7 linked regions of the Homo sapiens genome follow. The protein of the gene in region 4 purifies or fractionates together with the protein of the main gene of each other region. This does not show direct contact. Each region holds a gene or a part of one and is shown on either strand. Other genes may lie near its edges.

What was found.
Region 1: the proteins of DHFR (region 4) and RGPD5 purify together in Homo sapiens (affinity purification with mass spectrometry, with the first as the bait; one large-scale study listed by BioGRID). This does not show direct contact.
Region 2: the proteins of DHFR (region 4) and PPIP5K1 purify together in Homo sapiens (affinity purification with mass spectrometry; one large-scale study listed by BioGRID and IntAct). This does not show direct contact.
Region 3: the proteins of DHFR (region 4) and MYO3B purify together in Homo sapiens (affinity purification with mass spectrometry; one large-scale study listed by BioGRID and IntAct). This does not show direct contact.
Region 5: the proteins of DHFR (region 4) and MAP3K6 purify together in Homo sapiens (affinity purification with mass spectrometry; one large-scale study listed by BioGRID and IntAct). This does not show direct contact.
Region 6: the proteins of DHFR (region 4) and SBF2 purify together in Homo sapiens (affinity purification with mass spectrometry; one large-scale study listed by BioGRID and IntAct). This does not show direct contact.
Region 7: the proteins of DHFR (region 4) and MTR purify together in Homo sapiens (affinity purification with mass spectrometry; one large-scale study listed by BioGRID and IntAct). This does not show direct contact.

Annotation. Positions count from the first base shown.
Region 1 is NC_000002.12:109,835,805-109,839,304, reverse strand, and holds part of RGPD5 (RANBP2-like and GRIP domain-containing protein 5/6), read right to left. Parts: intron 3,487-3,500; coding exon 1,263-3,486; intron 372-1,262; coding exon of another isoform or gene 268-371; exon of another isoform or gene 1-267.
Region 2 is NC_000015.10:43,576,709-43,580,208, forward strand, and holds part of PPIP5K1 (inositol hexakisphosphate and diphosphoinositol-pentakisphosphate kinase 1), read right to left. Parts: intron 2,413-3,500; coding exon 2,311-2,412; intron 1,449-2,310; coding exon 1,362-1,448; intron 1,244-1,361; coding exon 1,168-1,243; intron 1,024-1,167; coding exon 914-1,023; intron 828-913; coding exon 745-827; intron 532-744; coding exon 400-531; intron 241-399; coding exon 119-240; intron 1-118. UniProt on the Homo sapiens protein: Bifunctional inositol kinase that acts in concert with the IP6K kinases IP6K1, IP6K2 and IP6K3 to synthesize the diphosphate group-containing inositol pyrophosphates diphosphoinositol pentakisphosphate, PP-InsP5, and bis-diphosphoinositol tetrakisphosphate, (PP)2-InsP4.
Region 3 is NC_000002.12:170,184,647-170,188,146, reverse strand, and holds part of MYO3B (myosin-IIIb), read right to left. Parts: intron 1-3,500.
Region 4 is NC_000005.10:80,625,726-80,628,354, forward strand, and holds the end of DHFR (dihydrofolate reductase), read right to left. Parts: 3' UTR 501-2,629; downstream 1-500.
Region 5 is NC_000001.11:27,360,462-27,363,961, forward strand, and holds part of MAP3K6 (mitogen-activated protein kinase kinase kinase 6), read right to left. Parts: coding exon 3,456-3,500; intron 3,088-3,455; coding exon 2,981-3,087; intron 2,561-2,980; coding exon 2,390-2,560; intron 2,293-2,389; coding exon 2,180-2,292; intron 1,790-2,179; coding exon 1,630-1,789; intron 1,407-1,629; coding exon 1,244-1,406; intron 1,167-1,243; coding exon 1,059-1,166; intron 935-1,058; coding exon 885-934; intron 792-884; coding exon 696-791; intron 548-695; coding exon 460-547; intron 378-459; coding exon 244-377; intron 1-243. UniProt on the Homo sapiens protein: Component of a protein kinase signal transduction cascade. Activates the JNK, but not ERK or p38 kinase pathways.
Region 6 is NC_000011.10:10,291,420-10,295,631, reverse strand, and holds the start of SBF2 (myotubularin-related protein 13), read left to right. Parts: upstream 1-1,412; 5' UTR 1,413-1,562; coding exon 1,563-1,617; intron 1,618-4,212. UniProt on the Homo sapiens protein: Guanine nucleotide exchange factor (GEF) which activates RAB21 and possibly RAB28. Promotes the exchange of GDP to GTP, converting inactive GDP-bound Rab proteins into their active GTP-bound form.
Region 7 is NC_000001.11:236,847,292-236,850,791, reverse strand, and holds part of MTR (methionine synthase), read right to left. Parts: intron 449-3,500; coding exon 269-448; intron 1-268. UniProt on the Homo sapiens protein: Catalyzes the transfer of a methyl group from methylcob(III)alamin (MeCbl) to homocysteine, yielding enzyme-bound cob(I)alamin and methionine in the cytosol. MeCbl is an active form of cobalamin (vitamin B12) used as a cofactor for methionine biosynthesis.

The sequences.
Region 1 (3,500 bases), on a different chromosome or scaffold from region 4:
TAGTGGCTAAAGATAAACATTAGATAAAACATAGGTCTTCATTGAGCAGACCTGAAATAGCAGAGCAATGAAGTACATTACAAATCAGCATCCCACTACATTTTAAAAAACAAACCAACAAGGGTGTCATGCCACCAGTCAAAAGGTACTTTGCTTAAACTGGCATTCTTTAACATGCATGTTGTAGTGGTAAGTACTTCATTTCATACAGCCACAGTAATTAATACTTTGCTAAGGGCTACCCAGCTGCTAAAAACTGCTGTTATCTCATACTGAGAATGCTAGTTCTATACCTTTGCTCTCAGGCTGTGAGGAAGGGGTGCTAGTCCAAAAGGCCATGGGATTAGATTTAAAAAGGCTAAAATTAAATCCTAGAAAATAAAGAATATTTCATTTTTTAACATTTTAGGAAACAAAATGAATATGCTTTTAAAACATAAAAAGCCAGAATCCCTCAATTTATACCACCAATCTGACTGTCTTACATATTCATTTATCCCTGTAGTTTCATTCTTTGCTCATTTAATACATGAGCAAGACTGACATACAACACATAAAATGAGAACATCTCAATATCATGTTTTTTTTTGTTTTTTGTTTTTTGTTTTTTTTGGAGACAAAGTCTCACTCAGTCACTCAGTCAGGCTGGAGTGCAGTGGCATGATTTCAGCTCACTGCTACCTCCATCTCCTGTGCTCAAGCGATCCTCCTGCCTCAACCTCCTGAGTAGCTGCTAATTATAGGCACGCACCACCATGCCCGGCTCATTTTTGTATTTTCAGTAGAAACAGGGTTTCACCATGTTGGCCAGGCTGGTCTCGAACTCCTGAGCTCAAGTGATCTGCCCACCTCAACCTCCCAAAGTGCTGGCATTCTAGGAGTGAGCCACCGTGCCCAGCCTCAATATCATGTTTTCTGAGTGACAAAAGAAACAGAACAAATGAAAATGAACACTTTAAAAAAAGACTCACGTTAATGCGCATGATTCAAGCATGAGTCCGTACACTGTACCAAGTTCTTTTGCTCTGCCCTAGCATGATAGAAGTATCTTCCAGTTACTGAAATGTCTTTAACTAAGTTCTCTTGCTCTTTGAAACCTCACCGTGAACTTATTAAGGGAGAAAAAAAATTGCTCAAATATTTTGGGGGTGTTCACAAAGCATCGTTTATATCCCAACATTAGTATCCCACAAAGAGTCTGCATCAAGCTAAACATTAAAAGAAAGAAAAATTGTGCTTAACTTTAACAACAAAGTACCTACCCTTTTCTGGTGTTTTAAATGTGTAGTTGATTGAAGATTCTTCCGTTGGAAAGGAAGCAGAGAGATTTTTGACTTTGCTATCTGAAGACTGTTCGATATCAGAGTTCTTTGACAGTTCACATTTTTTAGGTTCCACTTTGCTTTCAGATCCACTCTGGGCTACTGAACTAGTTTCACTATTGTTACTTTTCAAAGGTGCATTAAAACTAAATCCAAACAAAGACCCAGTGGCAGAACTGTTGCCAAATACAAATGGTTTTGATTTTTCACTACTAAAAATTCTTTTAACAGACTCTGAAACAAATACAAACTTTGGAGGAGAAACCACTGCTTTTGTTGTTGTTTCAGATGTGCTAGACACTTCAACTTCTGAAGCTGCATCTGCTACATCATCACCCTGAATAACATCTGTCCTCTCTCTTGTGGTTTCTTCTAATATAGCTACAGCAATTTTGCCACATGGTGACTCTCTGGGAGTGCTTGACCGAGAAACATGAGGTGTTATCAAAGAATCTTTTTCCTGGGCTGTTTTTGCTTCATCAAAAATTTTCTTAAACGAGTCTGCAACATCCTGTAGTTTAAAACGAACAGCTAAATGCTCTACTTTTCTTTCTCCATCTGCAAAATCACATGCAGTCCACACCCATACTCTTTCTGTCCCTTTCATATTTTGCAAACTCATGTCTGGAGTTATTCTGTGATTGGCACAAAGTTTTAATACTTGGTCCCTTCTCATCACTATACGAACTTGCTTATTATCATAATTCTGTAAAATCTTTATATCACCAATGCCCCTTTCTTTCCATTGACCAACATCTTTATCATATCTGTAGATTTCTGCCCTGTGACTAAAAACAACTTGTTCATTTTCCTCACCACTGGATACTTCAACTAGATCAGGTAAAGGAACAACAGGTTCAAAGTACTGTCCATCTCTCTCTTCTTCTTGAGTAACAACAGATTCTTCATCAGTGCCAACTGAAGTCCCACTCTGATTCAACTTGGCAGGAGACTTAGATAGACTCAAAGCAGATTTAAAACTGAAGTTAGATCCTGTTGTTGACTCATCAAAGCGGAAAAGATTTTTTCTCACAGGGCTACTTGCCAATGGAGAAGCATGTACTGAGCTACTACTGACACTATCATCCAAAGCATCTTCCCTTAAGTCATAGTTATCCCATTCTAATGTGGGCCCAGTGTTTTCAGCATTGGGTTTTATTGTTGTGTCTGAGGCACCGGCCGCACCTGTACCTGAACCCTTATTTTCTTCCTCAGTGACTTTTGTTTGATCATTTGTCAAAAATGTTTTGAAATCTTTCAGTCCACTCTTCATTTCTTCAGCTCTCTGTATTAACTTGGCAGCTCTGCCAGTATCTACAAGTTTATGGGGAGTTTGAAGTGGTATGTCTAACAGAAGCCGCTGGCATTCCTCAAATTTCTGCTTGAATTCTTCAGCCAGCTCTGGTGTTTTAAATTTTGCTGCCAACCGCTCTAGTTTGGCATCACCGTCAGAGAAATCACTGGCTGACCACATCCATGCTCTATCTGATCCAGAGAGGGGCTTCAGGTTCATTGTAGTCGTTATCCAATGATTAGCACACACTTTTAGTACTTGTTCTCTTCGCATCAGCATTCTTAGTTTGCCATTGACCTCGTTTTTGAGAATTTTTAAGTTCCCCAAGCCCCTTTCTTTCCACTGCCTTACCTCAGCATCAAATCTAAATAGTTTTACCCCCTGTGAATACAGAACTTTTTCACCTTCTTCTCCTGTTACAAGTTCTACTTTTTCAGGCATTTGAACTACTGGTTCAAAATGGATGTCATCGCTGTCCTCAGTCTTATAGGCATCATCATCTTTCTCAAAGTCACCGGAAGTGTTTGCTTTATTGGCCATTTTACCGTATCGTGATGAGAATAATTTTTCTCCAGCACCTGAAAATCCCTTGAAATTGAGGTCTTTTTTGCCAAACTGAAATCCTTCTCCTGAAGTTGATTTTGCAACATCTGCAAATGTAAAAGTGCTACTTGTTTGGCCAAAAATCACACCACGGCCCTTCTTCCGGCCACTAATATCCTGAGCCTGGAAGCCAGTATCATTTTCAAGAGGCTTTTCCCTTTTCTTTTCTTGATTTCCTGGTTCCGAAATGCCAAATTTAAATCCATCAGCAGACACAGGGATGGAAAATCCTTCTTTGGTTGACTTAAATTCTGTATTAGAAGAACCCTGAAACATAAATG
Region 2 (3,500 bases), on a different chromosome or scaffold from region 4:
TACATGCAGAAACTTCTCTGAGTTGGCCTACAAGCACCCTGAAATGCTCCAACTGGTTCTCCAAACTCTCTGCTTCTCTACCTAATGGAAACTGGGACTACAGAACTGTAGTATGCACCTTGGCGAAGGCAGCAGCAGTCATCTGAACACGACCCTCATCAGAGGCATAGATCTTGAGATCGTGGCGGAAAGTGCTATGGAGACGAAGCAGCCCACAACCAGGGAAGCCAGCATAGTCACCTGGGGACAAAGGTGGGGGACCACAAATGGACTGCTATAAATACTCGTGGAAGAAAAAATATTCATTCCCCCACTGTCTCTGTCCCTTCATTTTCCCCAACTTACTCTCTAATCATTTTATCCTGGCCCTGCTATGCGTTCACTCCCCAAAACACTCACCCTGTCCTCCAGGGTACATGCAGCGAAAAGCTCGCCCCAGCTCCTCAGCCTGAACACGGCCAGCAGGAGTCAGTTCTCCACCCCACTTCAGTACCAGCAACAGAGATGGGGCCAGAGTTTCCCTCTGTGGATCTGAAGGAATAAGAGGCAGTGAATGGTCTAGATCTAAGAAAAATAGTGGGAACATCTAAACCTTAGGTCTTCTGAGGAGACCAGAGATGTAATTTGGGGTAAAGGTCATCTATAGGCTCAAGAAAAAGAGATCTTGTGGGGAAAGAAGATGGACAAAAAACATAAAAAGAACACAAGATCTGAGAGGTAGTGGTAAGGGGGACTACATCTTACCTTGCCCCTCATTAGAAGCTTTTACTCCATGAGGGTAGTAAGTCAATTGTACCTTCCGGTTTATACCTGAGAAGTGACCATACCTGCAGGATAAAGTCACAGTTTATGTTCTGTTCCAGCACCCCAATTCTCACTGTTATTGGCTCCCTTTTGCTATCCCCTTTCTCACATCTCCAGTACAGACTTCAGCTGCTCTAGTTTTCCAGTCTTCTCCTCGATCTCACCACCTGGTTCTTTCTCCAGTTCAGCCAACAACAGCCTTGTGATATCCAGCACCTCCTAGAGGAAATAATAAGGTATCCATGCAGAAGGCCAAGTCCTAGACAGTTACCTTTCCATCCTAGTCTTTTATCAAGACTCCCAATGCCATATCCTCTATCTCTCTCATGGCACTGTTCCTCCTGGTCAGATTCACTACCTTACCTGGAGCTGCTCAGGTCGCTTGAGTTTTAATTTCCCTGTCTTGTAGCCACCATGTTTTTCAAACAGAGCAAAAAACCTGAAGAAGTAACGAGAAGCTTCAGTGTGGCATGAGACAGTCAAAGCCTCCAGGACTTGCCCCCCATGCAGTCTTCCTCACAAAAACCTATTTATGTAAATTAGGACACTCTTCTGACCTTGGGTGTTTCACTTCCATCTTCATCTTCTGCTTGGGAGTACGATCCCCATGACGAATAATTGCAATGACACAACGAAGTTCCATCCTAAGATCATAAATGTTATCAGAGCCTCTCCCACACCCCCATCCCACCTGCTGTCATCACATTACTTGACATGTCAAAAAAACAGAGGGGCTGAGCAGGGCTCAGGCCTGTGATCTCAGCACTTTGGGAGGCTGAGGTGGGAGGATCACTCAGGCCCAGGAGAAACATAGGGTGAGCATGAGCAACATAGGGTGAGTCTGTCTCTATAAAAAAAGTTAAAAGAAAAAAAATTATCCAGGCATGGTGCCACACGCCTGTGGTCCCAGCTATTTGGGAGGCTGAGGTGGGAGCATCACTTGAGCCCAGGAGATAGAGGCTGCAGTGAACCATGAGTGCACCACTGCACTCCAGCCTGGGAGACAGAGCCAGATCCTGTCGCAAAAAAAAAAAAAAAAAAAAAAAAGAAAGAAAAAGAAAAGGGAACTGAGATTAGGAATATAAATGGAGGCTGGGCATGGTGGCTCATGCCTGTAATCCCAGCTCGTTGGAAGGCCGAGGCGGGTGGATCACTTGACGTCAGGAGTTCAAGATCAGCCTGGTCACATGATGAAACCCCATCTCTACTAAAAACACAAAAATTAGCCAGATGTGCTCACCTGAACCCAGGAGGTGGAGGTTGCTGTGGGCCGAGATCATGCCACTGCACTCCAGCCTGGGCAACAGAGCTAGACTCTGTCTCAAAAACAAACACAACAAAACAAAAAAAACGGCGGGGGAATATAAGTGGAGTTAAGAAGACTGTGTATAAGAGGCCTAGGCTCCGTTAGTCAGATAGTGTGGGGTCAGGAAGTAACCATTAGCCTGGCTTAAGGAATCCCATGGGTCTTAAGTAGGTTACTCCAGATTTTTTGCTTTTGCTTACATAGTGCCAGATGTGGTGGGAACAATGGGAATGTCCTCAGCCTCCGTGGGGATGGACCATGGAATCTGGAACTGTGGGGCAAGCTCCCGCATTATGGTGTTCCTAGAAAGAGAAACAAAGAAGCCCTGTAAAAATGAATAAACCAGAACTACTCAGAGGAATGAAGCTCACAAAAACAAGCAGGCTGCAGGCAGAAGAATACCTTAATATAAAGTCTAAAAACATACAAACAAATACCCATATTTATGTAGTACAAATATAAATAAATACAAGGAATGACAAACACCAAATTATGGATTGTGGTTCCCTCTGGGGATGGGGAGGGGATGTTACTAGGGAGGAGTACATAGGGGCTTCGATTATATACACACACACACACACACACACACACACACACACACACACGTATGTGTACATACACACACGTATGTGTACAGTTTGTGTATATACACACATGTATGCGCATATAGATACACACATATGTGTATATAGATGCACATATGTGTATATAGATGCACATATGTATGTGTATATATACATATATACGTACATATATACACATATATACATATATGTGTACGTGTGTGTGTGTGTGTGTGTGTGTGTGTGTGTGTATATATATATATATATATATATTTTTTTTTTTTTTTTTTTTTTTTTTGAGATAGAGTTTCACTCTTGTTGCCCAGGCTGGAGTACAATGGCATGATCTCAGCTCACTGCAACCTCCACCTCCTGGGATCAAGTGATTCTACTGCCTCAGCCTCCCAAGCAGCTGAGATTATAGGGAACCACCACCACGGCTGACTAATTTTTTTTTTTTTTGGGTTTTTTTTTTTGAGATGGAGTCTCACTCTTGTCACCCAGGCTGGAGTACAGCGGCATGATCTCGGCTCACTGCAATCTCTTCCTCCCGGGTTCAAGTGATTCTCCTGTCTCAGCCTCCCAAGTAGCTGGGATTACAGGCGTCCACCAATATGCCTGGCTCATTTTTTTTTTGTATTTTTAGTAGAGATGGGGTTTCACCATGTTGGCCAGGCTGGTCTCGAAGTCCTGACCTCAGGTGATCCACGCACCCTGGCCTCCCAAAGTGCTGGGATTACAGGCGGAAGCCACTGAGCCTGGCCAATTTTTTGTATTTGTAGTAGAAACGAGGTTTCACCATGTTGGTCAGGCTGGTCTCAAACTCC
Region 3 (3,500 bases), on a different chromosome or scaffold from region 4:
GCACCTAACACTGAAGCACTCTGATATGTAAATTTTAGAGCTAAAGAGAGGCTCCAATAAATTAATAGCTAGAGACTTCAACACCTCACTTTAAGCATCGAACAGATCATCCAGACAGAAAATCAACAAAGAAACATTGGACTTTATCTGCATTACAGACCAAATGGACCTATTAGATAGTTACAGAACATTTCATACAATGGCTGCAGAATACACATTTTCCCCAGCACATATATCACTCCCAAGGATAGATCATATGTTATGCCACCAAATTAGTCTTAAAAAATTCAAAAGAATTGAAATTATATCAAGTATCTTCTCCAACCATGACGGATTAAAACTAGAAATCAGTAACAATAGGAATTTTGGAAACTGTACAAACACATGGAAATTAAACAATATGTTCCTGAATCACCAGTGGGTCAATGAAGAAATTAAGAAGGAAACATAAAAGTGTATTGTATCAAATGATAATAGAAACACTACATACCAAAACCTACACGATACAGTGAAAGCAGTGCTAAGAGGAATGGTTATAGCTATAAGTGCCTACATACAAAAAAGTAGAAAAACTTCAAATAAACAACTTAATGATGCATGTTAAAGAACTAGAAAAGTGGCTGGGCACAGTGGCTCACACCTGTAATCCCAGCACTTTGGGATGAAGCAGGCAGGTCACTTGAGGTCAAGAGTTTGAGACCAGCCTGGCCAACATGGTGAAACCTCATCTCTACTAAAATACAGAAATTAGCCAGGTATGCTGGCACACACCTGTAATCCCAGCTACTCAGGAGGCTGAGGCAGGAGAATCACTTGAACCCAGGAGGCAGAGGTTACAGTGAGCCAAGACTGTGTCACTGCACTACAGGCTGGGAAACAGAGCAAGACTCCATCTGAAAAAAACAAAACAAAAAAAAGAACTAGAAAAGCAAGAGCAAACCAAAACCAAAATTACTATAAGAAAAGAAATAATAAAGATCAGAGCAGAAAGAAGTAAAATTGAAATGAAGAAAACAACACCAAAGTCAAGGAAACAAACAGTTTGTTTTTTGAAAAGATAAATAAAATTGACAAACCTTTTTGTTTTTTGAAAAGATAAATAAAATTGACAAACCTTTAGCCAGACTTAAAAAAAAAAAAAGACAACTCAAATAAATATAATCAGAGATGAAAAGGAGACATTACAACTGATACCACAGAAATCCAAATGATCATTAGTGGCTACTATGAGTAACTATATATCAATAAATTGGAAAAATCTAGAATAAATGGGTAAGTTCCTAGACATATACAACCTACCAAGATTGAACCATGAAGAAATCCAAAAACTAAATAGACCAGTAACAAATAAAGAGATCAAAGCCATAAAAATGTCTCCCAACAAAGAAAATCCTGGAACCTGATGGCTTCACTGCTGAATTTTACTAAACATTTAAAGAAGAACTAATGCCAATCCTACTCAAGCTATTCTGAAAAATAGAGGAGGAGGGAATACTTTCAAACTCATTTTATGGGGCCGGTATTAGCCTGATACCAAAACCTGACAAAGGCACATCAAAAAAAGGAAACTACAGGCTAATATTCCTGATGAATGTAGAAGTAAAACTCTTCAACAAAATATTAGCAAACCAAATTCAACAATACATTAAAAAGATTATTCATCCTGACCAAGTGGGATTTATCCCAGGAATGCAAGTATGGTTCAACATATGCAAATCAATCAATGTGATACATCATATCAACAGAATGAAGGACAAAAATCATATGATCATTTCAGTTCATGCTGAAAAAGCATTTGATAAAACTCAACATCACTTCATGATAAAAACCCTAAAAAAAACTGGGTATAGAAGGAACATACCCCAATACAATAAAAGTTGCATATGACAGACCCACATACTGAATGGGGAAACATTGAAAGCCTTTCCACTAATATCTGGAATATGACAAGGATGCCCACTTTCACCACTGTTACTCAGCATAGTCCTGGAAGTCCTTGCTAAAGCAATCAGACAAGAGAGAGAAATAAAAGGCATCCAAATTGGAAAGGAAGAAGTCAAATTAGCCTTGTTTGTAGATGGTATGATCTTATATTTGGAAAAACCAAAACACTATTAAAAAACTACTAGAACTGATAAATTCAGTAAAGTTTCAGGATACAAAATCAACATACAAAAATCGGTAGCATTTCTATATTCCAATAGCAAACAACTGGAAAAAGAAATCAAGAAAGTAATCCCATTTGCAATAGCTACAAATAAAATACCTAGGAATTAACCCAAAAAAATGAAAGATCTCTACAACGAAAACTATAAAACACTGATGAAAGAAATTGAACAGGACACACATGAAAAGGGAAAGATATTCTATGTTCATAGTTTGAAAGAAGCAATATTGTTAAAACGTCCATACTACCCAAAGCAATCTACAGATTCAATGCATTCCCTATCAAAATACCAATGTCATTCCTCACATAAATAGAAAAAACATCATAAAATGTATATGGAGCCACAAAAGACCCAGAATAGCCAAAGCTATCCTGAGCAAAGCAAACAAAACTAGAAGAATCACTTTACCTAACTTCAAATTATACTACAGAGCTATAGTAACCAAAACAGCATGGCACTGGCATAAAAACAGTTATATAGACCAATAGGACAGAATAGAGAACACAGAAACAAATCAATGCATTCACAGTGAACTCTTATTTGACAAAGCTGCCACAAACATACATTGAGGAAAGGACAGGCTCCTCAATAAATGGTGCTGGGAAAATTGGTTATCCATATGCAAATGAATGAAATAAAATCTAAATGGATTAAAGACTTAAGTCTAAGACCTCAAACTATGAAACTACTCAAAGAAAACAATGGAGAAACTCTCCAGGACGTTGGTCTGGGCAATGATTTCTTGAGTGATACCCTACAGGCACAGGCAGCCACAGCAAACATGGACAAATGGGATTACATCAAGTTTAAAACTTCTGAACAGCAAAGGAAACAATAAACAAAGTGAGGAGACAACCCACAGAATGAGAGAAAATATTTGCAAACTATCCATCTGACAAGTTATTAATAATGAGAATATATAAGGAGATCAAACAACTCTATAAGAAAAATCTAATAATCTGATTTTAAAATGAACAAATGACCTAAACAGATATTTCTCAAAAATGGCAAATAGGTTTATGAAAAGGTGCTCAAAATCAATAATCAGAGAAATGTAAATCAAAATTACAATCAGATATCATCTCACCCCAGTTAAAATGGCTTTTAACCAAAAAAACTAAGCAATAACAAATGGCTGGTGAGAATGTGGAGAAAAGTAGACTCTTGTACACTGTTGGTGGGAATATAAATTAACACAATCACTATGGAGAACAGTATGGAGGTTCTTCAAAAAACTAAAAATAAAACTACCATATGATTCAGCAATCCCACTGCTAGGTACACCCCAAAGGAAATGTTATCAGTATATTGAAGAACTATCTGCACTCCCAT
Region 4 (2,629 bases):
TTCACTGAGATGTTCTAGAGACGGGAATTAAAACTTGTTTTTTTCTTCCTTAGAGTGCAAAAGCAGTGCCTTACAAACTTAAGCAGGCTTCAGATTATCTGAGATGTTTAAAAGGCAGATTCTGGGACCCATCCCTGATTCAGGAATAGCAGGTACAACATTTTCAGAAACATTGCCTTTAAGGAAGCGGGTATGTCACACACAATTTTAATCTCACAGAAACATAAAATGTGCTAACCTGAATATTTAAAACATATGTTTTATTATTTACATGTTTGCCCCAAGTTATCACCTTACAGTGCTGTTCCATAAGCCAATCTGGAAAAAGTGAGACTTGATTTTGATTGTTTCCTAACAAACAACTGATCTTTGTTTTGTGTGACTCTTGGCTAATTCTATGTTTTCCTTTCTCTATTTTTAAGCTGACCATGGAGATATATTGCCATCAAAGTTTCTTTGAAATTTTGTGTGGGGTGTACAAAGAACAACAGGAGGCCAGCACTTATTAACAAGTGTAACTCTTTATTAAGATGGAATTGTTCTTATTAAAGAAATAGATGAAAATGGTTAAGTACAATTAAATGGCTCCAAAAGTCTTACAATGAAAACAACAGTCCTGCCAGTTGTTCTTTCCAGAGGCAAATACTTTTCATTCTCTTAGTTTTTCCTTCCGTTAGTTACCTTCATGGGTTTTTCCAAATTATTGTTTTTTTTTAGTTTTTCAAGTGAATGCATATATTAATACATAAAATTTTAAAAAGGCTTTTCAGTTTATAATGCATCCTAACAGTCCCCTGCCCCATCCCTCCTAATTCTCCAGAGCAATGACTTTTAACTCTTTTAGCAATGTCTTCTGTTTTTTTCCTCACATAACTTAGTCATTTCATTATTATATATTATATAGTGATTTCTGGATATGACAGATGAGGATTTAGCTCTTACACCATCACAATCTTCACTTTTCCTCCCATATTGTCCCAGAGTAGTTACCATATTTAGGGGCTAAGCAGTCACATCATTATGACTGTGTACATACTGCTCCTTGTTGAGAAAAACAGTGTATTATGCTCTTCCTATCCTGTACTTCTTTCTGCCCTAGAATGATTGCCTAACCAACCCTTTCCCCTTGTTTTTTTTTTTTTTTTTTTTACTTTTGCTTTATCTTCAATGAACTTCTTTCCAAATGCCCCAAATCTGGCAATAAGTTATTATTTTTAAGAGAAGGGATCTCACTAAGGTGGCCAGGCTGGTCTGGAACTCTTGGGCTCAAGTCGTCCTGCTGCTGAGCCTCCTGAGTAGCTGGGACTACAGGCATGGGCCATTCCACCCAGCTAACCGATTAATATTTTTACTGTTCCTTTTTAAAGCTAGCTCCATAGCTGGAATATTGCCTGTGTTGGATCCTATTTGCTGGATTCATGTCATTCTCTGGTTTGTGTACTCCTTCATTTTGCTGGAGTATTTTCTCCAACAGCTTCCCTAAAAAGGGCACATGGAGGTAACCCCTGAGTCTTTGCTTGTCTAAAAATGTATTATTTTACCTTCACCCTTGATTATTTGGGTGAATATAGATTTATCAGTTGAAAATAACTTTCTAGAATTATGAAGGCATGGTTCCATTGTTTTCAGATTCCTTTTCGAGACAAGGTCTCTTCTGTCACCCCGGCTGGAGTGCAGTGGCACAATCACGACTCACTGCAGCCTTGAACTCGTGGGCTCAATTAATTCTTCCATCTCAGCTTCCTGACTAGATGGGAATACAGGTGTGCGCCACAATGCCCAGCTAATTTTTGTGTTTTTTGTAGAGATGGGGCTTTGCCATGTTGCCCAAGCTGGTCTCAAGTGATCTGCCTGCCTTAGCCTCCCAAAGCGCTGGGATTACAGGTGTGAGCCACTGTGCCTGGCTGGTTTTTCTTTTATTTTCTCTCTACTTCATTCATTTCTCAAAGGCATCTGAAACTCCCTGGGCCCAAAACCAAAGTCAAACTCCATCAGAATATCCTGCTACTTATAACTTTAAAATATATCTTAAATCACAATTTCTTACTACATGCAACCCTTTGGTTCAAGCAACCATCATCCCTCACTTGAACTTATAATTGGTTTTCCTGCTTCTGTATTTTTTTAAATTATAAAATACTTCAAATAAACCATGTGTGGCCTTATACTTTTTACTACATAAAAAGAATGAAGATGTGCCGGGTGTGGTGGCTCAAGCCGGTAATCCCAGCACTTTGGGAGGCTGAGGTGGGTGAATCGCTTGCGGTCACGAGTTCGAGACTAGCCTGACCAACATGGTGAAACCCCATCTCTACTAAAAATACAAAATACAAAAATTAGCCGGGCGTGGTGGCGCGCACCTGGTCCTAGCTACTTGGGAGCCTGAGGCAGGAGAATCGCTTGAATCTGGGAAGGCGGAGGTTGCAGTAAGCCGAGGTCACACCATTGCATGCTAGCCTGGGCAACAAGAGCGAAACGCTGTCTAAAAAAAAAAGAACTTACATACTTAAACATCGAATTGCTTTAAGTGTTTGGCATTCACTGTTCCCGTGCATGCCAGCAGCTTCTTACTGCAAACACCTGAGACTTGCTATAGAGCAGCTGGACTATGTTCCGCCCACACACAGGA
Region 5 (3,500 bases), on a different chromosome or scaffold from region 4:
CCCGCCCACAAGCCCTCTCCGACCTTCCCCACCCTTACTACCCTGCCCACAGGACCCTCCAGACCTCAATCCCGCCCGCACGGTCCTGGCTGTTCCGCCCACGGGCCCAGTCCACAGGGCTCGAACTCTCAGGTCCTACGAGCCCGCCCACTAGGCCCCGCCCACAGGAGCCGCTCCGCTCGTGGCCCGGCTCACTCGGCCCTCGCGAGCCCTCAGCCCCACCCGCGCTGCCACGCACCGCACCTGCTGTCCCGCTCCGGGATCTCCTTGATGGCGATGCGCACCCTCGTGTGGCGATCGCGGCCCGCGTACACCACCCCATACGTGCCCTTGCCCAGCACCAGCCGCTCGCCCGTCTCCGTGTACTCATAATCAAACTGCCGGGCGCGGGGTGAGATGGGAGTTCAGCAGGGCCCGCGGCCCCTCGCCCTCCGCGAGCTCCCAGTCCCGCGTCCTCACCTCCAACATCTCCCCCGCGCCCTCCGCCTCCTCCGCGGGCGCCGTGGAATCCGGGTTCGTCACCCAGGCCTGGATCAGGCCGCAGAACCTGAAGGTGGGGGAGGTCAGACCCGCGGGAGGGGCATCTTGGTCCCCACCTAAGCCGGAGCATCCAACGGACGTCGTCCCTTTCTTTCCCCCACTCCCCCCCGGGCATCCTGGCCCTCAGAGTACCCCGACCATGAAAGGCTGCGCACCACTGGCAGTGCCCTACGCTGGGGAAGCACAGCTGGACGTCCTGAGCCGGGGGGAGTGCATAGAGGAAGCAGCAGCGCTCGTCGCGCTTTGAGGCGCTGGGAAGGGATGAAGAACCCAGTAAGCGTCAGGCTGGGTGGCAGCGACCCTCACCTCCCGTCTTTCCAGTCACCCCAGGTCCCGCCTATCACCTGACTCCGCATATGGAGGCGACTGGGAAGGTCCAGCTGGAGGGAATGTCCTGCAAGAAGAAATGGGGTGTGATGGGGAGTGCTGGTGACAGGAGAGGGGTCTGAGGATGGGAGAAAGGCTCCACAGAAAAGGTCCTAGCAAAGGTGAGTGAGGGGCCTCAGCAGCGACTTCACCTGGGTCTCAGGCTCCAGCAGGCTCAGGGTCACTGTGCTTACTGGGTCAGTACCCCGAACCTCGAGCTTTGCAGGCAGCAGCACCTTGTTCATCTCCAGGACCAGCACCTGCAGGCAGTTGGGGAGTGGGGTCAGTCAGAAGGGGCTTACCCCTTTCCCGGGTCCACCACCCCTACAGGCCTCACCAAGCACTGGTCGCCCTGGGCACAGGCTGTCTTGAATGGTTGGCAGGACTGTAGCAAGAAGTGGAGCCAGAAGTGGGCACGGCGTGGTGGCCCTCCAGGGGGCTCTGGCGTGGGCCTGAAGTGCTGGTAGAGCAGGAAGGTCTCCATCACGGACACCAGGTACCTGCATGCAAAGCCACATCCTCAGTTCAGCCCAGGCACCAACCAGCACTGCCAGGGAGAGGAAACTGGCCTGGATATAGCTAGAACGTTGGCATGGGGTGCCACGGGCACTGGTCTAAAAGCAGCCAGGTCATTGGCTCAGGGTTCAGTCTAGCATGCCAATGGACATAGGTGCAGGAGCTGACAGCCCAGGTCAGGCCAAGAATGCAGAGGGGGCCACCTACCATATGGGGGCATTGAGCTTATACAGCTGCTCTGCAGCCAGCACCACCTGGGTGGGGTCATTGGCGAGGATCTGGGCTCCCAGGTAGAAACCCACATCCCAGTAATACTGCATCTTCTCCACGCAGCCTTTGCGGGCCAGCAGGCAGCCCAGCTTCATGCCTGGGGGAGAGAGGCATGGGCTCCAGTGAGTGTGGGTGCAGGGGTGAGTGAGGCCCACCATTTCTGTGGGCCCGAGTGTGGACATGAACATAGATATGAGTATGGCATTGAGTATGGCAAGATCTCGGGTGGGAACAGGAGCTCAGGCACAGGTATATGTGGAATTCAGGATGTAATGGACACGCAGATGTGAGTTTGGGAACATTTGTGGGTTTGAGGGCTCCTGAGGGCCCAGAACAGGTATGAGGACCCAGGTGTGGGTATGGGCAGGACAGTCCAAAATGGATGAGCTCATCCTAGCTCTTGCCCAGTGTGCTCTCTCCCTGCCCTCTTCCCAGGCCCCTCGGAACCCCTGTGGGTGACGAGACAAGAGCCAGGATCTGTGCTCACCTATTAGCCGGAGCTCTTTGGAATCCTCAAAGTGCTGCCCGGCAGCAATGAGGAGCACAGCTGCATTGATGCCTGAGTGAAGGCTGGGCTCTACGTCAAAAGCCTTGCGATACCTGGGGTGGGGGTAGGGGGCACAGGGCTGGACTGATGCCCACAGCACCACCCCTCATCTCACAGCTTAGCCCACCGGCCACTCACTGTGCTCTTTACCAGTGATAGGCCTGCTCCCGGTGCCCAGCATCCTGGAAACCCGAGCTGAAGAACATGTCCTTGTAGATACGGCCACACATGCAGTACAGATCGGGCGCCACAGAGCCCTCAAGCTGTACCAGCGGCAGCAGCACAGACAGGGCCTTCGCCCGGTCCCCAGGCCTGTTCCTCCTAGGGAAAAGATGGGCTCAGGCCCTCCCTGATGGCCCTGGCCTACTCTGTCCAGGGACCTCTAGACACTGAACCAGCAGGGACCCTTCCAGGGGCCTGACAATAATGACCTCAAAATGATAATGACCCTGGCCAGCACTGACCTCTCTAGTGACCTCAGATGGAAGTGATTCCTAGATGCGATGACTCTTAGGAGCAGTGATCTTGGACAGCGGTGACCATACCACAGGCAGCACCACCTCCCCCACCCCGACCCAGGCAGCAGTAACTCAGAACAACAGGGACCTATTGACATCAGTGACCCCGGTCAGCAAATTCCCCGAACAGCAGTGATCCCAGACAGCAATGGCTTTGCACGCAGAGACCTAGGTTTCGGAAACCTTTATGTGGCTATGACCTAACCCTTGCTCTGCCACTCACCGGTTGAGGGCAAAAGTGTAGTGGAAGCAGACATTATGCTGCTCGGCCACATCACAGGTGGGCAAGGCCTGCAGCGTCTCCACCAGCTCAATGATGGCCGAGTAGTCCTGCATCAGGGAACGGCAAGCACTGGCATCATGGGCCTCCAGGCCCCAAGGAACCTTGAGCCAGGGTCCTGTCCCACTCCTGACATCCCACCCAGCCACCATCTTCTGCACGCCTCCCTCAGGCCCAGCGGACACACCTCACAGGGAGAACCTACTGTATGCCCCATGCTGGGCGTTCCCAACCCCACAACTGCCCCAGGAGGCAGCGACATGCTCATCCTCTCTAACAAATAAGGAGGCCAACACTCAGAGACATTGGATAATTTGCCCAAAGCCACCAGTGAGCAAGTGGCCCAGCCAGGAACTGAACTTGGGTTTGTCTGACCTCAAATGCCAGCTGCCCTACTGCCTCTCTGAACACCACGCACCTGCACATCGCGGTAGGAGAGCAGCAAGTTCATGATGATGTCGGG
Region 6 (4,212 bases), on a different chromosome or scaffold from region 4:
GAGAGGATTGCTGCACGGGGTATGACTGAGGTTTTTTTTTTTTTGGTTTAATTATTTTCAGGATCAAACTATCTTCCCTCCACGTTTGCAAATTCAGCTGATTCAGTTTTACCATTAGCAACTGACATAGAGGTCCTGGAGTTAAAGTATTCCTTCAGTTTCAGTTCTAGTGCAGCCCAACCCTCCCAATTTGTAGATGAAACAAGTGTGGCAGAGAAAGGGGAAATAGTAAATTACAGCAGAGTAAATCTTCAGGAGCTGAGATGTCAACTCTCTCAGTTCAGAGTTGGAGCCATTGCGGCTTCCTGCTGGTCGTTGGGGAAAATCGCACATTTACTCATTTAAAATATTTTGTAGGCACCTACTATATACTAGACGCTTTGCTAAGAGGCCTTGTCTTATGTGTAAATATGAAGGATCAAACCCTCAATTAATAGTGAGCAGTGATAAGCAACCACAAAGACAACTTCTAAACCACGGAGATTTCCAAAACTTTGGTCTACCACTTGTACAAATTCTACTAAAACTTCGTGAGATATTAACAAATGACAAAGTGAGTTCACCTGAATGTCACACCAGCCAAATTCGAAATGGTCAATAGGAGGTTCAACAAAAAAGCAAGCGACTTTGATAATCCCGAGACGGAAGGACGGGACCATCTATTCATTTTTGTGCATGTTTGAGCAGGGAAGTTGGAAGTCCACCTGCTCGGGCTGCGAGAGCCCTGGGACCGCTGCGAGGGAAGCAAGCCGAGGCGTGCGGGGCTCCCCAGGGAGAGGCCAGCCCAGTTCGGGAGGATCCCGGGGATGCCGCGTTCCTCGGTGGAATCTGGCTCTCCCGGGCGCTCCGGGGGAAGCCCAGGCCGACCGCCCCCGGCCCACCCGGCATTGAAACCCGAGGCTCCTTGGAGGATTGCGTAAAAGCCTCTCCCTCCCCCGTCTGCTCGGTGGCATGTTTCTAAAATTCCCATCTACACAACATAAACAGGAAACGTGCAGCAAAAGCCCTGTCGATGCAAATTCCTTGCTTCCAACCGAGGGCGGGAGAATTTCATCTTTGGTGGTGGTGGGGAGCAGAGGAAGCAGCCAGCTTTCCAAGTGACCCCTCAACTCTCCACATCCCTTCTTCCAAATCCAAACAGAATAGAGAAGGCGGAAGGAAGGACCCCCTGCTTTAGGAAAAATAGGGAGGCAGAGGGGGCCGTGAAGCAGCATCCAGGCCTCAAAGTGAACCACCTCCAGGGGCCGCGGTGGCGGCGCGTGGCGGGAACACGCCCGACCGCCCACTCCCCCAGCGCAGCAGTCCGCGAGGCCCGCGGAGGGTGGAGGTGGGCTCGCCGCCCGGGCTTGGGGCAGCCGAGCCAGCGCGGGTGGGGGCGGGGGAGGAGCGGGCACTAGGCGCCGCGCAAGCGCAGAGCGCGCCTCGGTTGTCAAACATGGCTGAAGCGCTGCCGCTGCCGCTACTGCCGCTGCAGGGAAAATGCTGAGCCCTCCCGGGCCGGGTGGGCGGCGGCGGCGAGGGCGGCGACGGGGACCCGCTTCCCGAGCGCGGCGGCGGCGGCCATGGCCCGGCTGGCTGACTACTTCATCGTGGTAGGCTATGACCACGAGAAGCCAGGTAAGGGTGTGGGGCGGCACCGCCCCCGGGCCTCCCCGCCCCCCGGCCGCTGTCCAGTGGGCTCCGCGGGGCCGGGCGTCGGGGACGGGCGTCGGGGAGGGCCAGGCCGAGTCTCGGAGGAGCGGGCGGTCGGCGTCCGGCCTTCTCGGCTGGGCTGAGCCTGGCGGTGGGCGTGGGGGGGCCGGCACGACGGTAGGGGGAGGGAAGACGCCGCGTCTGCCCAGCCCCTGGGCGCACCCGCTGGGCGGGCCGGAGGCGAGTTGGGGTCTCGCGACCCTCCCGCTGGAGGCTGCAGGGTACCCGGGGCAGAGAGAGCCCTGAGATTGGGCCCAGGACCGCAAGGCTGGGAGGGCGGGAGCCAACTGTGCTAAGTTCCTCGGGGATAAACTTCTGCCCTGCATCCTGAGTGAGTAACCAGTGACGCAGGGGGTTGTCCTCTCCGAAAGGAAGTGCTGAGAGTCCAGTGCTAACTCACCCCTGTGCTGTTGGGGGCCTAGTGACCTCCCCAAGGAACGCGTGGTACCAGGGAAGGGGACAGGATTCTTTGCACTTTTACCCCTTTCTAGGAAATGCTCCCTATTCTTTCAGGACAAATGTGACGGTCACTTCACAGTGACATGACTTGTCTTTTAACTAAGGACAGCCAGCTGACCGCTGAAGGTGATCTTGTTTCACTTTAATGTGTTTTCATTGTTCTTTTTATTTGTCACAGAATTTTCGTCGTAAGGAACAATTGGGCAAATGCATTGTATTTTACACTTTAATTGACGGACTTCCACAACTTAAGAGAATTCAGGGTTCATGCACGTTTATTTCTGTATTTGTATTCTCTTGTATTACTATGTAGCTAAGCATAATGTAATAACAAATTGAGCTGGGAAACCACTTCTATTTTAGGGCAATTCTAGTCCCACATTTGCAAGGAATTTGAGATATCAGCTCTACAGCCCCTTCATTTTTCAGAGATGCTGAGATTGTGTTTTCCTGATGGTTACAGCCATTGGTAGCTCAGAATACCATTGTTCTACCCACTCTTGGTCCACTCTCTCTTTCATTATTCCTCTCCTAAGAACTTCCTCTCCTTTAGTGGGAACCTTTCATGTTCTTTTCTCTTTCACCAGTCATGACCTGATTGAGGTCAATTGTTAAAGAGAAAGTTTAAATGTTTAAACTTCTGGATCCAAAATTTTATTTCCTAGTAATTTGGCATAGTCTGATGTTTCTTTTCTATCAAGATTAAGTGTGGGAAATCAGTTTTTTAACCTTTAGTTTTTAGTGACATTGTTCCGCCTCCCCCCCTCCCCACTTTTAAACAATTTTTTTTTTTTTTTTTTTTGAGACGGAGTTTTGCTCTGTTGCCCACGCTGGAGTGCAGTGGTGCGATCTTGGCTCACTGCAACCTCTGTCTCCCGGGTTGAAGCAATTCTCTGCCTCAGCCTCCGGAGTAGCTGGGATTTACAGGCGCCCGCCAACACGCCCGCTAATTTTTGTATTTGTAGTAGAGACGGGATTTCACCATCCTGGCCAGGCTGGTCTTGAACTCCTGATCTCGTGATCCACCGGCCTCGGCCTCCCAAAGTGCTGGGATTACAGGCTTGAGCCACCACGCCCGGCCAACAATGTTGAAACAATAACAGACTTGCAAAAAAGTTGCAAGAATGGTACAAAAAATTCTACCCGCCCCCCAACAATTTGAGAGGAAGCTGTTGACCTGATGCCCTGTCATCCCAGAATACTTTAATGTGCATTTTCTGCAAACAAGAATGTTCTCCTACATGATCACAGTGTAATAACCAAAACAGGAAATGGATAGTGATACAGTACTCCATCTAGTTCTCAGACTGGTTCAAGTTTTGTTGATTGTGCTAGTAATCTCTTTACTGGCAAAAGGATCCAGTTTAGCAATATGTGTTGCATTCATGTTATGTCTCTTTTGTCTCCCTCAATCTGGAACATTTCCTTTATCTTCTCCTGACTTTCATGACCTTAACATATTTAACAATTACAGGTCAGTCACTTTGTAGGCTGCCCCCTCAATTTGGGATTGTCTGTTCCTTCATGATTAGATACATACGAATATGCACGTGGGAAGGATATCACAGAAGTGATGCTCACTGCATCCTGTCAGGTGGTGCACAATTTCACTTTGTTTCATTGTTGGTTATTTTTACTTTGATTACTTGATATAAGTAATATCTGCGAGGCTTCTCCACTGTAAAGTTAATACTTAATTGTTTTTGCCATGTACTTTGAAACTATGTAAATATCTTGTTCCTCACTAAACTCTTAATCATTTATTGACATCTACATGGAGTCTGTGTGTGTGTGTGTGTGTGTGTGTGTGTGTGTGTGTGTGTTTAGTGGATTATATTCTGTTACTATTTGCCTTAGTCTATTCGGAAAAAGTCACTAGCCCACCTGCCCGAAGCACTGGCTTGAGTGGGAAATAGGAGAGTCTAAGCACATCCAGCCGAAGTGAGACCAGAAAGGGGAGCTCGCGGATTATATTCTGTTACTATTTGCCTTAGTCCATTCGGGCTGTTATAACAAAAATACCTCAAACTGGGTGGCTTATAAACAATAGAAATTTATTTT
Region 7 (3,500 bases), on a different chromosome or scaffold from region 4:
GGCGTGATCCCAGCTCAATGCAACCTCCACCCTCCTGGGTTCAAGCGAGTTCATCAGGCTCTGTTATGTTCTCCAGTCTGTTTGTTACACAAGTTAAAACTCTACTAAAGAAAAAAAATAAGGTCTCCTACATTTCAGAAAAACAATTTACTAACTAAGAATGTTAACATTTCATCAGCCAATAAATATATAAGTTAGTTCTAACCATTCATTAGACCCATGGGACAAATTTGAGCCATGACTTGGGAGAGAACATGCCTACACTTACTTTAATGACTTTTGTTGCATGGATAAAATTAATGGCATACAAGTTGTGTTCCTCCATTCCAGTCCCAATGGTTAGGATATTAGGGTCAAAAATAATGTCATTTGGATTAAAGCCCAGTTTTTTCACAAGCAGATGGTAGGCCCGGGTGCACACTCTGATTTTTGTGTCTGTTTCTGTTGCCTAGGGAAAAGAGCAAAAGATGTAGTTTGAAATAGAAAAATTATCTATTAAAATATTAATATTAAATACCTGTTATTTTATTTTAATAAAATATTAATATTAAAATATTAAGTGTTATACATTAGAGCACATTTCACTCACTGAAAACACTCAAGTGTCAATGCTTGGATTTCACAGAAATCTAAATGCCAAGCAGCTTCCGATCACTTATCAAATTATCTCAGAGGAGAGACTGGTTTAAAGATCTCTTTGTGTTTTCACAAACACAGCAGCTATACTCTTTCTGCAAAAAATCAAACCTTAAACATATACACACATATGGTATATTATGAAAAAGCTTCTAAAAATACATGCATATGATAAAAAATCAAATACTACTAAAGAAGAGATTAACATGTAAGTGCCCCTTCCTCTCTTGACCTGACAGCAGTGTCACAACCTATCACCCAGGAAACACTGCCATTGCTTTCTCAGATCTTCTTGCAAAAACATTCTAAGCATATTCAAGGATATGCATTTATTCCTCACCTTCACCCATTTTAACACTGGCCTAACATGTGTCTTAAGTCATAAATACAAATTAGTCTTTACCTTCAAAATAATGTCCCTAAAAGGCAAAACACTAACTCCGGCAAGGCTCATCCCCCAGCTGCTTCCCAAAAGCCTCAGAATCTCAGCCTCCATCTCCAATCTCATCTCCTACCATTTGCCCTCTCCTCTACTCCGCACCTCCTACATTGCTCCTTTGGTGTTTTTGAAACCCGTCAAGCTTGTTCCTCCCTCAGCAACTTTCATTTATTGCTGCCACTACCAGAACATACCATGACATGGCTTTGTGCTTCACAGAACTAAGGCTTCTGCCCAAGTGCCCCCTTTTCAGAGCCTACCTTAAATCACCCTCTCTAAACCAGCCACTTCCACCCTTCCCCACCTCCTCCATTCTTCTTCGGAGTATTTCTTTCCAGAAATTGTATTATTTTGGCAACATCTTTAGTATTTTTCGTTGTTTTATTACTTGTTAATTGGTAAACTCCTCTCCCCTAGATAGAATGCCAGTCTTGCTTTATCCCCAGTGCCCTGAGCAGTGCCTGTCAAAGTAGGTGCTCAACATTATGTATGAATGCTGCTTTTACTCAAAGTATTTCTGAACTTTGTCATGGAAACTGTCTTCAGATCAAATTTACAACCTCAACACAGGGTATTCACCAAATTACATCCTGAATTATTTCTGGTTGTATGAAAAATCAAATCTACTCTTAAAAAATGATTACTTGCTATCACTCCAGAGATAAGAAAAAATAAGTCACAATTCTGAAGGTCAATTCTCAATGAACGCGAAAAATGTTCTTGAAAAATGGCCAACCCTACTGCAATCTATATTGCAGACTTCTGTGGAGATGAGGGGGTAGGGACACGGACATAGGTCAAGTGCATCTAGTGAGGCCCTAGACAACAGAAATGAGGAGTAGGGGAATTATGAAAAGAACTCTCTCTTAGATCTAGCCTTTTGATCACTTACTACTTTGGTATTCTTTTTCAACTGTTTTCTTTGGTCTCTTTAATCGCTCTCTGCAGCTGGTGGGGTGAGACTTCACCTCTACTTGGGAGGGAAGTGCCTCCAGGACTTAGCAGACAAAATGGCCCAGGGAAAGGGAGACAGGAAGTGGTCTCTGTGGCCTCACTGCACCCAGGCTTTAGGGAAGGTGGCGAGCTTTCGTCTTCCTTAATGGAATTTTCTCAATGCTTACTTCCTCTGCCTTCAGTTAGAGTGAAAAGGTTAAGGTTGAGACTGAGATGTATGTCAGAAAAAACTGGTCAGAAACAGCCCATTTGCAGCTGCCTTTAGGCTTGAACTTTTAAAGTCTACCCTTCACCAGACAGCCCAATAGAGTTCTAGGCTCTAGGTTCATGGCTCATCTAAGCTCACTAAGAGAGAAGGCACAGGGGCGACCAATGCTACTAGTATTACTGAGTAACCTAGTCTGGTTGGTAGATGAAGAAGTCAAGGTCCTGGTCATTCCTCATCTGAGCCATGAATATTATCTGGCCAAGCAGGGCAGGTTGAAGTGAACAGTATGTTACCCACAGGAGAGTAGGGTGTAGGGCCCAGCTGTATACCAAAGACAGCCCTGCTTGTGGGACAAGCAGGTGCATCCTCACAGGACAGGAATTCATTTCTAGAACCAAAACAGAGTCATCAACTCTAACCTCCATAAGGATGAAGCCCTTGTCAAATTGTTCTCATGGCGTCTAGCACAGTATCTGTGCCACATTAACAGATACTCAACCTCTGTCACTTGATTAAACAATGACTCTCAGAGTGAACACGGCATTGGTGTACAGGCCTTTGTCAGGAGCAGGTCATATCTCATATCACGTAAGGTTCACCAAGCTTCTGTCTTACTCCTCACCAGGGCTGTGGGACAGACACACTAATAAAGCCTCAATCGTGCTGGTGGATTTCAGAGATCCAGAATAGAAGTTCAGTAAAACAACGGAATGGCAGCTTTACTCCATCAGGAAGGGCTTTCAACTCTGGTTGCACATTACAATACCCTGGAGGGATTTCTGTTTGCTTGTTTTTTATAATAGTAACACCTCACCCTGAACCAGTTAAATCAGAATCTGGAGATGGGGTCTCAGCAAGTGTTTTGTAAAAGCCCCTTAGTGATGCTAATATAAAGCCAGGTGAGAACCACCAACAGGTGAGATGTGGCACCTTCTTCAGTTGGAGTAGAAGAAAAACTCAGTGAGATTCTAAGCAGCAAGAAGGAAGGAATAAATGCCATTTATAGCTTTATCAAACAGGTTTACTCTTAAGCCATAGAGAAGCTAGACTGTGACCAGTGAGTAGAAGGCTTTACTTAAGAAGCTCATGGCTCAGATTCTGCTAAAATATCACACACTCAGGCAGTAATGCAATAAAACAATTTTTGATTTGGTCATCAAGGCAGACACTGTGAGGAAGAGAAGGACAATGTGTAGAAGACATCTAGATTCTTTAATGTAGTCTGACAAGGAGCAGAGATCGAACAGGGCTAACTTCAGAGGT